Linked DNA regions of Homo sapiens: region 1 is linked to region 2. A link means that fine-mapping ties the variant in region 2 to the plasma level of a protein whose gene starts in the linked region. Region 2 holds a variant in brackets. A gene starts in the other region. All regions are shown on their forward strands. Region 1 holds the start of CD1C (CD1c molecule). Region 2 has its middle 18 kb from the start of LINC01271.

What was found. A credible set is the group of variants that fine-mapping cannot tell apart. PIP is the chance, under the fine-mapping model, that this variant and not a neighbour inherited with it causes the effect. The UK Biobank Pharma Proteomics Project read protein levels with antibody pairs (Olink). The fine-mapping took linkage between variants from a reference panel, not from the people measured, so its PIPs are less certain.
Region 1: CD1C starts here. The variant in region 2 is the best candidate, but not a certain one, in a credible set for the plasma level of the CD1C protein (UK Biobank, PIP 0.81).

What each region holds. Positions count from the first base shown.
Region 1 is chr1:158,287,598-158,292,952 of GRCh38, forward strand. It overlaps CD1C (CD1c molecule), which reads left to right and starts at 2,326. Exons shown (of 6, transcript NM_001765.3): 1 at 2,326-2,528; 2 at 3,537-3,803; 3 at 4,487-4,768; 4 at 4,999-5,277. The coding sequence starts at 2,468. It also overlaps a transcript of CD1B not described here.
Region 2 is chr20:50,336,738-50,342,116 of GRCh38, forward strand. No RefSeq gene overlaps it. Among named protein-coding and RNA genes, the nearest start is that of LINC01271, 18 kb to the left of the region's middle. RefSeq lists an enhancer at 2,377-2,576. The variant A/G (reference allele first, on the strand shown) is at 2,321.

The DNA of each region.
Region 1 (5,355 bases), not on the chromosome of region 2:
TAAAGCAAATTATCTAGTGGCACTATCAGAAGTCAAGATTGACCATTAGATCCATCTATCTCATGTTATTTTCAACTTGTTTGCTTCTGAATTCAAGAGGGCAAAAAGGATGATACTTACTGGGTTTTATAATATTATCCAATATAGCTAGGTTATGTTGCAGTTATAAATAAACTTTAGAACTTGGAGGCTTAACACAATGAAGTTTATTTCTCATGCAGTTAAACTGCATGTAGATCAGGCTGCTCTTCTCCATCTCATAGTCTTGCCATTTAGAAATTTGACTGCCAAGTTGGTACCACAGGGTAAGATGATCAGATGTGATATTTTCAGTGGTCAGGACTGGAGCTGGCTAATGCTTCCAACACCACACATTCCATTGCCCAGAACTCAGTCCATGACCTTAACCCAACTATTAGGAAATAGGACAGTTGCATCTTTCCTGTAGGAACATGGAAAAAAATGTGAATAAACACATAATGTGGTATCTACTATTGTTTTCTAAAACCACAAACCAAGTATTTGCCATTAACAGCACAAGATGAGCAAAGATAACACCTAGTGCTTATGAATGATTTGGGTAGGATTTGAACTGGGTATTGCTCTTAAAGATATTATAGTTCATAGAAATTGCCACATATCTGTGGCCATGATAGGAAGAGCTCATTGAGAATGACTTCTGGCCTCACTATTAACGTTGACAAACCTAAGAAATAGTGTATATATCAAAGTATCATGTTGTACACAGTAAATACATAGAATAAATATAAATTTAAAACAGAAACAATGTTACAAATGGGATTTTCCTTTTTAAGGCACGGTCTTGCTCTGTTACCCAGGCTGGAGTACAGTGACATGAACATGGCTCACTACAGCCCTGACTTTCAGGGCTCAAAAGATCTTCCTGCCTCTGCCTCCCATTTAGCTGGGACTACAGGCATGTGCCACCACATTTGGCCAACTTTTTAATTTTTTTATCGAGATGAGGTCTAACTTTGTTGCCCAGGCTGGTCTCAAACTCCTGGGCTCAAGTGATCTTCCCACCTTGGTCTCCCAAAGTGCTGGGATTACAGGCATGAGTCATTGTGCCTAGCACAAATTCATGCCCAGATTTTAAGTGACTGCTCCAATGCATTCAGTGAATAATTAATATGATTTAAGAAACACTATAATAATAAATGTATTTCCTGGATCTCAAAAAAACTGTGTTCATGTATTTACACATATTAACCAGCCAGGGTCACTGATAAGTCACTGAATACTTCATATAAACTACTTAAATCAAACATTGACAAATGCTGCCCTTTTTATACAATGTGTTTTGGTCAGATCACAAAACAACTTAAATTTGGATTTTTGTGGTCTCCCCATGTATGAGTCCTCTTGAAAAGCTGCATGTTCTGACTATCACAATCGTATACCATTCCACACTGTACAGAATTTTCAGTATTTAGTTGAGATGCATGCTGTTCTTCCAGGACTTCAAATTATGAACTTCCCAGGGGGTTAGTCAGTCAAAATGCTGCTCTAGAGAATATAGTTCTAAGTAGATTTGTATCTGGGATTCTATACATTGAAATTAAAATCACAATGCATTTTAATTTTTTGTTTAAACATCTGCAGTTTAAAACTCTTTGATAGAAGAGATTACATTGTTAACCTCTGTGTGTTTATATGCCTAGTAAGACACTGGTATCAACCATGTACTATGTAATTTTTTAGTGAATGACTATACAGATTAAATGCAGTAGAAGGGCTTCTTTATATTTGTTATGGTCCTATGCATTCTGAATGGCTGCAATTTAATCTCTAAGGATAATGTAGAGTGGACTGTAGTTTATATAATTGTGCAGGGAAATCTTGGAAGATGTAAAAAGCAACGTCTCCAATTTATAAAAGAATCAGTGAGAATGAGGAAATAAGAAAGATGGGTGAAAAGAGGTGAAATTGGAAAGAGAAAACTTTGAGGACATTCAAAAGGGGGAAAGAAAGAATGGAGTGATGAGAAGAGGGGACACTATGGAGAGTGGAGGCAAAGTTAAGTGGAGAAACTGGAAGAACTGTGATCTATTAAAACAAGCAGGAACTGAAAAAATGACATGGTTTCTCCTTTTTATCTTACAAATGACATGCAAAATCCAGAGGGACAAAATGACCTTTCTTTCAATGCCATACACCACTTTGTCTAAGGCAGTTGAGGAAGGGAAGTAGATATAATGGAGCTTAGTGGCAGAGCAGCTGGAATCCTGAGAGAAGAGAATAACTTTAGTTCAGAGCAGGTGGGGAAATGAGAGATTGAGTAGGAGGACCAAGGTTGAGGGAAGCAGATCTTCTTAGTTGCTGTCAGCGGCTGATGGGGAAGATTGTTGGTAGAAGGAAGTCAGAATATAGGTACAGAGGGATAAGTTTGCTAAGAACAGAGATCAGCAAACAGCTTTTCTGAGAGAAAGAAACATCTGCAAATGACATGCTGTTTCTGCAGTTTCTGCTGCTAGCTCTTCTTCTCCCAGGTGGTGACAATGCAGACGGTAAGAACATCGCTGTCAGCTGCAAGGTTACATGTATCTGGGTAGAGTGTGCTGGGCTTTCCCGAGATGGATCAATAGAGATGCCAGAATGCTTGCCATCTGAGCATACCTGTCTCCAGGTCCAGTTTACTCTTTTGGAGGATGGTGGCAGAGCATGGGCTCTGTGTAAGGAAAATGTTATAGCTAAAGTAGTCATTAATGTTTCTCTGTGGTAACTGGTTCAATTTCCATTTCCTCTCCATTTTCCGTTAAAACAATCAGGGCCCAGGAAAATGATGTGGTTTCTCCTTTTTATGTTACAAATGACACGCAAGGTCCAGAGGGATGAAGCAACCTTTCAATGCCACGCACCACTTTGTCTAAGGCAGTTGAGGAAGGGAAGTAGATAAGATGGAGCTTAGTGGGAGAGCAGCTAAAATCCTAAGGGAAGAGAGTAACTTTAGTTCAGAGCAGATGGGGAAATGAGAGATTGAGTAGGAGGCCTAAGGTTAAGGGAAGCAGATTGTCTTAGTTGCTGTCAGTGGCTGATGGGGAAGATTGTCTGTTGGTAGAAGGAAGTCAGAATATAGATGTAGAGGGATAAGTTTGCTAAGAACAGAGATCAGCAAATGGCTTTTCTGAGAGAAGGAAACAACTGCAAATGACATGCTGTTTCTGTAGTTTCCGCTGCTAGTTCTTCTCCTCCCCGGTGGTGACAATGCAGATAGTATGAACATCTCTGTCAGCTGCAAGGTTACATGTATCTGGGTTGAGCATGATGGGCTTTCCCAAGATGGATCAATGAAGAAGCCAGAATGGTTGCCATTTGAGCATACCTCTCTCCAGGTCCAGTTTACTCTTTTAGAGGATGGTGGCAGAGCATGGGGCTCTGTGTAAGGAAAATGGTATAGCTAAAGTAGTCATTAATGTTTCTCTGTGGTAACTGGTTCACCTTCCATTTTCTCTCCATTTTCCTTGCCTCTCTTTTTTTTTTTTTCCTTACACTACTTGCCCTTCTTCCACCAAAAGCATCCCAGGAACACGTCTCCTTCCATGTCATCCAGATCTTCTCATTTGTCAACCAATCCTGGGCACGAGGTCAGGGCTCAGGATGGCTGGACGAGTTGCAGACTCATGGCTGGGACAGTGAATCAGGCACAATAATTTTCCTGCATAACTGGTCCAAGGGCAACTTCAGCAATGAAGAGTTGTCAGACCTAGAGTTGTTATTTCGTTTCTACCTCTTTGGATTAACTCGGGAGATTCAAGACCATGCAAGTCAAGATTACTCGAAATGTAAGTTCAATCATCTAAATTATGGGAGTTCTTTAGAATGTTCTATTTCAGGGAAATATTCTCTACTAATTTTTGGGCCATTTCCCATTATCCCATCCCACCATAAAATTCTGCATAGATGAACCTTTTAAGGGATATTCCTGATGTTGACTCCCTCAAATTTCCTAGGCTCTTGCTATTTTTGGAATTTTTTTTCTTGTGCTTTGTTATCTTCCACCTGTGGTCTCCCTCTGTATCCTACAATCCAGAGATACACAGCTGTCCCACTCTGTGCTTGACTCCCTTAAAATAAAATCTATTCCCCCATTCAATTTCTTCAAAGATCTATGTCCACAGTTCAATGACCATTATGACCAATTTCATGCGTCATGGAATGCTATCCTCCTACCTCCCTCACAAAGGCTCCCCCTTCACCCTCTATCCTATATTATGTGGCTCACCTATCATTTTTCCACATCTTCCTTGGCCACTTTTTCTTGTTAATTCAAGGCATTTATCTCTTATTGTCCCCTTCCCTATCCCCAGCAATTTTTCTCTCTTGTTTCTGATCAAATATGTCTTTGGCTCACTCTCACATCCATGTAAAACTTTCTTGCTTCACTTCCTGATACAGCCCTAGGTTTTTATACTGTTGTTTTCACTTTTTTGTTTGAACTCTTTTTCTCATTCCTCCCTTCCTCCAGATCCCTTTGAAGTACAGGTGAAAGCGGGCTGTGAGCTGCATTCTGGAAAGAGCCCAGAAGGCTTCTTTCAGGTAGCTTTCAACGGATTAGATTTACTGAGTTTCCAGAATACAACATGGGTGCCATCTCCAGGCTGTGGAAGTTTGGCCCAAAGTGTCTGTCATCTACTCAATCATCAGTATGAAGGCGTCACAGAAACAGTGTATAATCTCATAAGAAGCACTTGCCCCCGATTTCTCTTGGGTCTCCTGGATGCAGGGAAGATGTATGTACACAGGCAAGGTCAGTAGTTTCAGCCCCTTCCTCTAAGATTTTTCTATTCAAGTACTGCCCCTTCTGTTCCCACCCTTCAAACTCAGGACAAGAAAGAGGACAAGAAGCAGGGGGGTTGCTGGGTAATAGTTTCTTAGAGGCAGGAAAAAGATAACTGTGCATATTCATGTGGATGTGTGTATGTGGATGTAAGTTGTGTGTAAGTTTCTTCATCAGAACACTTTTTCTGCTCTCTGCAGTGAGGCCAGAAGCCTGGCTGTCCAGTCGCCCCAGCCTTGGGTCTGGCCAGCTGTTGCTGGTTTGTCATGCCTCCGGCTTCTACCCAAAGCCTGTTTGGGTGACATGGATGCGGAATGAACAGGAGCAACTGGGCACTAAACATGGTGATATTCTTCCTAATGCTGATGGGACATGGTATCTTCAGGTGATCCTGGAGGTGGCATCTGAGGAGCCTGCTGGCCTGTCTTGTCGAGTGAGACACAGCAGTCTAGGAGGCCAGGACATCATCCTCTACTGGGGTAAGACTGGAGGTTGGAAGTGTAGGTAGGTGGTTCTTGAGCCTAGAGGTTAGGGGAGAGGAAATTTTGAGGATAGCA
Region 2 (5,379 bases):
GGATATTGCTACACACCTATCAGAATGACCAAAATAAAAAACGATGGGAACTTTCGCATTCAATCACTGGTGAGGAATGGAGACACTAGAACACTCATACATTCCTGATGGGAATGTAAAACGGTACCGTATTCTGGAAAACAGTTTTTTAAAAACTGCCTTATGACTTGGCAGTTGCAATCCTGGACATAAAAATGAAAACTTATGTTTGTGCAAAAACTTATGCTCAAATCTTCATAGCAGCTCTCTTCATAATAGGCAAAAACTGGTAAACCACCCGGAAGCCTGTCTATGGTTTTTTTTAACTAAAAAAAGCTGTGTTATATCCATACTATGGACTGCTACTTGCAATACAAAGGAATAAAATATTGATAACACACAATTTGAATAAATCTTCAGAGAATTATGCTGAGTGAAAAAAACCAGTCCTCAAAGGTTACATAAACTATATGATTCCATTTATGTAACATTCTTGAAACCACACAATTATAGAAATGGAGAACAGATTAGTGGTTGCCATGGCTCGGGGGCAGGGTTGGGGGTGGGAGATGGGTTTGGTTATACAAGGGCAATGAGGGATCCTCGTGGTGATAGAAATGTCTGTATCTTGACTATATCACTGTCAATATCTTTATTGTGACTGTTAACATTGGGGGAAACTGGAAAGGGTATATGGACTCTCTCTGTTTATTTCTTACAACTGCATGTAAATCTATAATAATCTCAAAAGAATACATTTTAAAAAGAATATATTATACAATTTTCTATACCCAGACACTACTAAATATAATTATATCTTTGGTAACACAGACACACTGTTCTCAGATAACGGAAGTAGTGCGGTGATTATGTGTGTGACTTGACAATGGGATGGGCTGGGTTCAAATCTCAGCTACCAGTCCCTTCACCTCCTTGGGCCTCAGTTTCCACACCTGCAGGTGCTGAGCAATGAGAGGAACTGTCTCGTGGGGTTGCTGGGGGGACACGATGACGTGATTCATGAGACATGCAGAGCACAATGCTCACTTGCAGTGGCTGCCCAGTAAATGAAATTGCCACTTTTCCGGGCTGTAGAAAAGGCTACAGGTAGAGGCAGGCAGAGGATTGGACCCGAGAGCATCCTCTGAGAGCTCTAGATTGGGATCATGTCTCACCAGCCAGGGGGTTTGTTTTGACTTCTTTCTTGCAGGGAAGTGTCTGCTGAGTGGTCCATTCCACTCCCCTGAGTTTGGCCTGGTCGCTTCTTGTCTGCCCTCTGGACCCCGGTGGGTGCAAACTTTCATGGGTGTCTCTCCACCTGGAGCCTGTGGTTGGGACTGCTCAGGTGGGGACACAGCCTGGGGGGTGATCCTCTGTAAGGCAAAATGGAGCAGGAGTGGAACCCATGCCTACTGCATACCTATTGTGTGCCTTGTGACTTACGTGCTGCAGCTCACGGAATTCTCCCAACAACTTTGAGCAGTAGGTGCTATAATCACTCCTGCGTGATCCAGAGAAAACCGAGACTTGGTGAGGGGAATGGACTTGTCCAAGGTTGTGCAACTAGTAGGTGGCAGAGCTGAGATCTGAGCCCTGGTCTGTCTGATTTAAATCCAGAATCATTTTCACTGTTGATAATAACCTCACCACTTATTAAGTATCTACTAGAGTAATCAATATGCTAGCTCTTTCCATTGAGGTATGATCACCTTTCCATTTTAGAGAAGAGGAAATAGGGGTTAGGCAAGGTGCATTGCCAAGATGGACAACAGCTCTCAAAAAACAGCCAACCTTGCAGCCAACGGGCAGCTTTCTTGTGTGCCCCCAACCCCACCTGTAGCTCCAGCCCAGCTCAGCCAAGATCACTCAAGCTTTGGGACTTTTAAATGCTGAGTCAGCAAACAGCCCCTACCTTGAGATACTCTGCCTAGGCAGACTGTGGTTGTTTGCACTTCAGCTTCAGGCCTCCAGGGTCAGCTGAGATAGCAAGACCTTCCCCTGGGGGCTGGATGGGGTCATTGGGAGCCACTGAGAGACCCTTTCCCCACTTGGCCTGGCAGACAGAGTGGCAGTTGGAAGAGGCTCGAGGTGGCTGTGGTGGTAACAACTTCCTTTTGAGTAATAACATTTACTGAAAAGCAATTCTGCTTTTAGCACCAGAAGTTCACCATCCTTGCAAGCAGGCGCCTAAGAATACCTTCATTCAACCACAGTTCAGAGATTCACAGACTTCCTTTTGCACTCCCTCCAGGAGAGTTTCACATTTGGTGTTGAGGGAAAACCAAATACCACAATTATTGGAGGGGGTGGGAGGGGTGTTGAGAGGGAGGTGATGCGAAGG[A/G]GGCCAGGTGGCATCAACCACAGCCCCCAAGGCCTCACAGGCAGCCTCTGGGCAGCGGCTCAGCCTCTCGCCCTCAGTTACTGGAAAGACAGCGGACGAGCTCATAATGAAACCGACAGGCTGACAATTTATCTTCCTTTTACAAGAAAAAGAAAGTGATTGTCCTTCAAACAAGCATGACTTTGGAAGCCAGGGACTTACCCTGGCCACTCTGCAAATTAGAGACAGAGCCAGGCTGCTCCAGAGGCCCCGAGCCCCTGCCTGTCACCCCCAATTAGCGCTGGAGTTCTTTAGGCTCGTTTTTTCTATTGCCCAAAATCCAGTCTACTGGGGCATAATGGGGACTTATGGAAAGAAAAAAATCCAATCTGCACTTGGGAGGGGATAGCCTTAAATGTTAGGCACTCACCGCAGGCAGCTGGGGGTGGCTGAGGGCAAGGGAGAAGGCATGGGTGGGGAAGGAGGGGATGTGCCAGGCAGAGCCAGGAGGCTCCAAAAAGCAGCTCTAAAAAGCTCTCCCCCTCCCAGCAATCCAGCCTCCTGACTCACGCCAGACACAGAGGCAGCTGATGGGATGGGAAGAGGCTGGCTTTGGGAGCCACAGGGATGTGGGGGCAAACTCCAGCTCTGCCACTTGCTGGCTGTGTGACCTTGGGTGGGTAACTTCACCTCTCTGAGACTCAGTTTCCTCACCTTTAAGATGAGGATGAGTATAGGAGGTCAGGACATGACCTTCCTGTGCTCAAAACCCTCCCACGGCTCCCACCTCACTTGGCAGAAAGTCAAAGATCTCTGTGGCCTACCAGGCCCTACAAGATCTTTCCCATGCTTCCCTTATAACCTCATCTCTCTCTCTCTGTCTCTTTTTTTTTTTTTTTTTTTAAGACAGGGTCTCACTTTGTCACCCAGGCTGGAGTGCAGTGGTGCCAACACATCTCACTACAGCCTCAACCTCCTGGGCTCAAGTCATCCTCTCACCTCAGCCTCCCAGATAGGTAGGACTACAGACACATGCCTCCACGGCCAGCTAATTTTTGTATTTTTTGTAGTAGAGATGGGGTTTTGCCATGTTGCCCAGGCTGGTCTCGAACTCCTGAGCTCAAGTGATCTGCCCACCTTGGCCTTCCAAAGTGCTTGGGATTACAGGTGTGAGTCACCGCGCCTGGCCCATCTCCTCTTACTCACTCTCTCTGGTTCCCTCTACCCCTGCCACACTGGGCTCCTCTTTGTTCCTCCAACATGCTAAGCACACGCCTACCTCGGGGCTTTTGCACACACTGTTTCCGCTGCCTTCAGCATCCTTCCTCCAGATAGCCACAGGGCTTCTTCCCTCTCCTGATCTGGGTGTCTGCTTAAATGACCCCGGGGGTCCTGCTCTGACCCCCGGCCCTTCCAAATTGCTCCCCTGGCCTTACCTCTTCACCCTGCGTGAATGTTTTCCCATAACACTGACCACTACTTGACACAATAATTTAGGGGGTTCATAACTCCCCATTGGCCAGACTGTAAGCTCCCAGCAGGCAGAGGCCAGTTCTCCACTGTCCTCCATTAAATCTCAGAGCCTGGCACATAGGGGGCACTCATCCAGCATTGAATGAACAGATGCAGGGTTTTGTGGTGAGAAGGGAAGAAGGACGTGTGTGGCGGGTTCAGCACCAGCCCAGGGTGCGTGCTCACTGTCACTTCTTCTCTCCTCTGCCCAGCACCAGCCCCATGTCATGTGCTTGTTGAATTCCTACAATGGAAGGATGCATTTTACAGATGCAGGAATGAGACCACAGAGCCCAAGCGACTGTCTCAGCCCGCAGCGGGGCAAGGCTTTGAATTCTGGTCTGCGGGTCTCTTGGCCTCCAGGACAATGGTGACAGTGTCCAGTCTGACTTGGGGTCTGGGTGAGAGAAATGGCTGGTGGGGCCATCAGACTCTTGAGAAGAGGCCCTGGCTTTGAGGATCTCCAGCCGACATCTGGGCTTAGGACTGGGGTTCACGCCCCGTCCTCCTGTCCCACAGTCCCACATTCTGCCCCAAAGCAGAATGCAAGCCCCATCAAGGAGGCTCAGGGTTTCCAGAGAGGGGCTTCCTCAACTTTCTGTTGCTGGAAAGTTCTGTCCCAGAAAGGGCAGACGCTTGAGGAGCTCCTGGATCCGGCAGAAGGCTCTGAGACTAGGAGACCCCTGGTGTCCTCGCTCCCCGGCACCCCGCCAGTTCTCGAATACAAGGGACTTTCCAGAGAAGTCAGCCTCCTGGCTGCCTCCAAGCCTGCCCAGGCCTGCAGGCCCAGGTCTCCATGAAGCTCAGTCCTGCCTCGGTTTCCCTGTTTTTAATTTCTTGGAGAGGCCAAGGAGTTTGGAGGTGAACAGCCTCATACGAGCACTAATTTCCCCTAGGCCTGGGGCATAGGAATTTTGGAGCCATAAACAGGCTTCTCACAGCCCCCATGATGAGTCCTCCCCACACTCCATCCACCCTGGACTCTGGGCTGAGCTGGGCAAGGAGCTGGTCTGGGGTGGGCTGGGTGTTGCCTGTGGGTGCGGCTCAGAGCTGGGGGCGCTACCTCTGCCCTTCTGTCCCCCATCAGAGCTGCCCCAGCTGTATGAGAACCCCTCCCACAATGGCTACAACAGAGGGCACGCAAGTGAGACGCCAGGAAGAACTGCTTCAGCTTCGTTATCCTCAAAGGTGTTCGTACCCATCAAGCCTCCTAGAGCAGACCTCCATGACAGCTGCCCATGGGACAGGTCCACTCTGGAGATATGTTTAGTTTGGTCCTTAAAGTATTTTTTTTTAATGTGAATCAATTGCCAACATCTGACATGCCAGGAGATTTCACATAAAGTCCTTTTCTCTGGCTTCTCTTGAAAAATGGGAAGATGTGGCCATACTGGGCCCACATTCCTACTGGACACAGGAGGCCTGGGAGTGGGGTTGCGGGAGGCCCTTTCTTAGTGGCACATAGTAGGTACTTTCCTGTTCACCCAGTCCCTGCATGCCCCACTTTCCTCATATCATTTCCTTGCCAGGGTCTTGAAGTATGAGTAGGAGTGCGCCAGAAAAGGGCA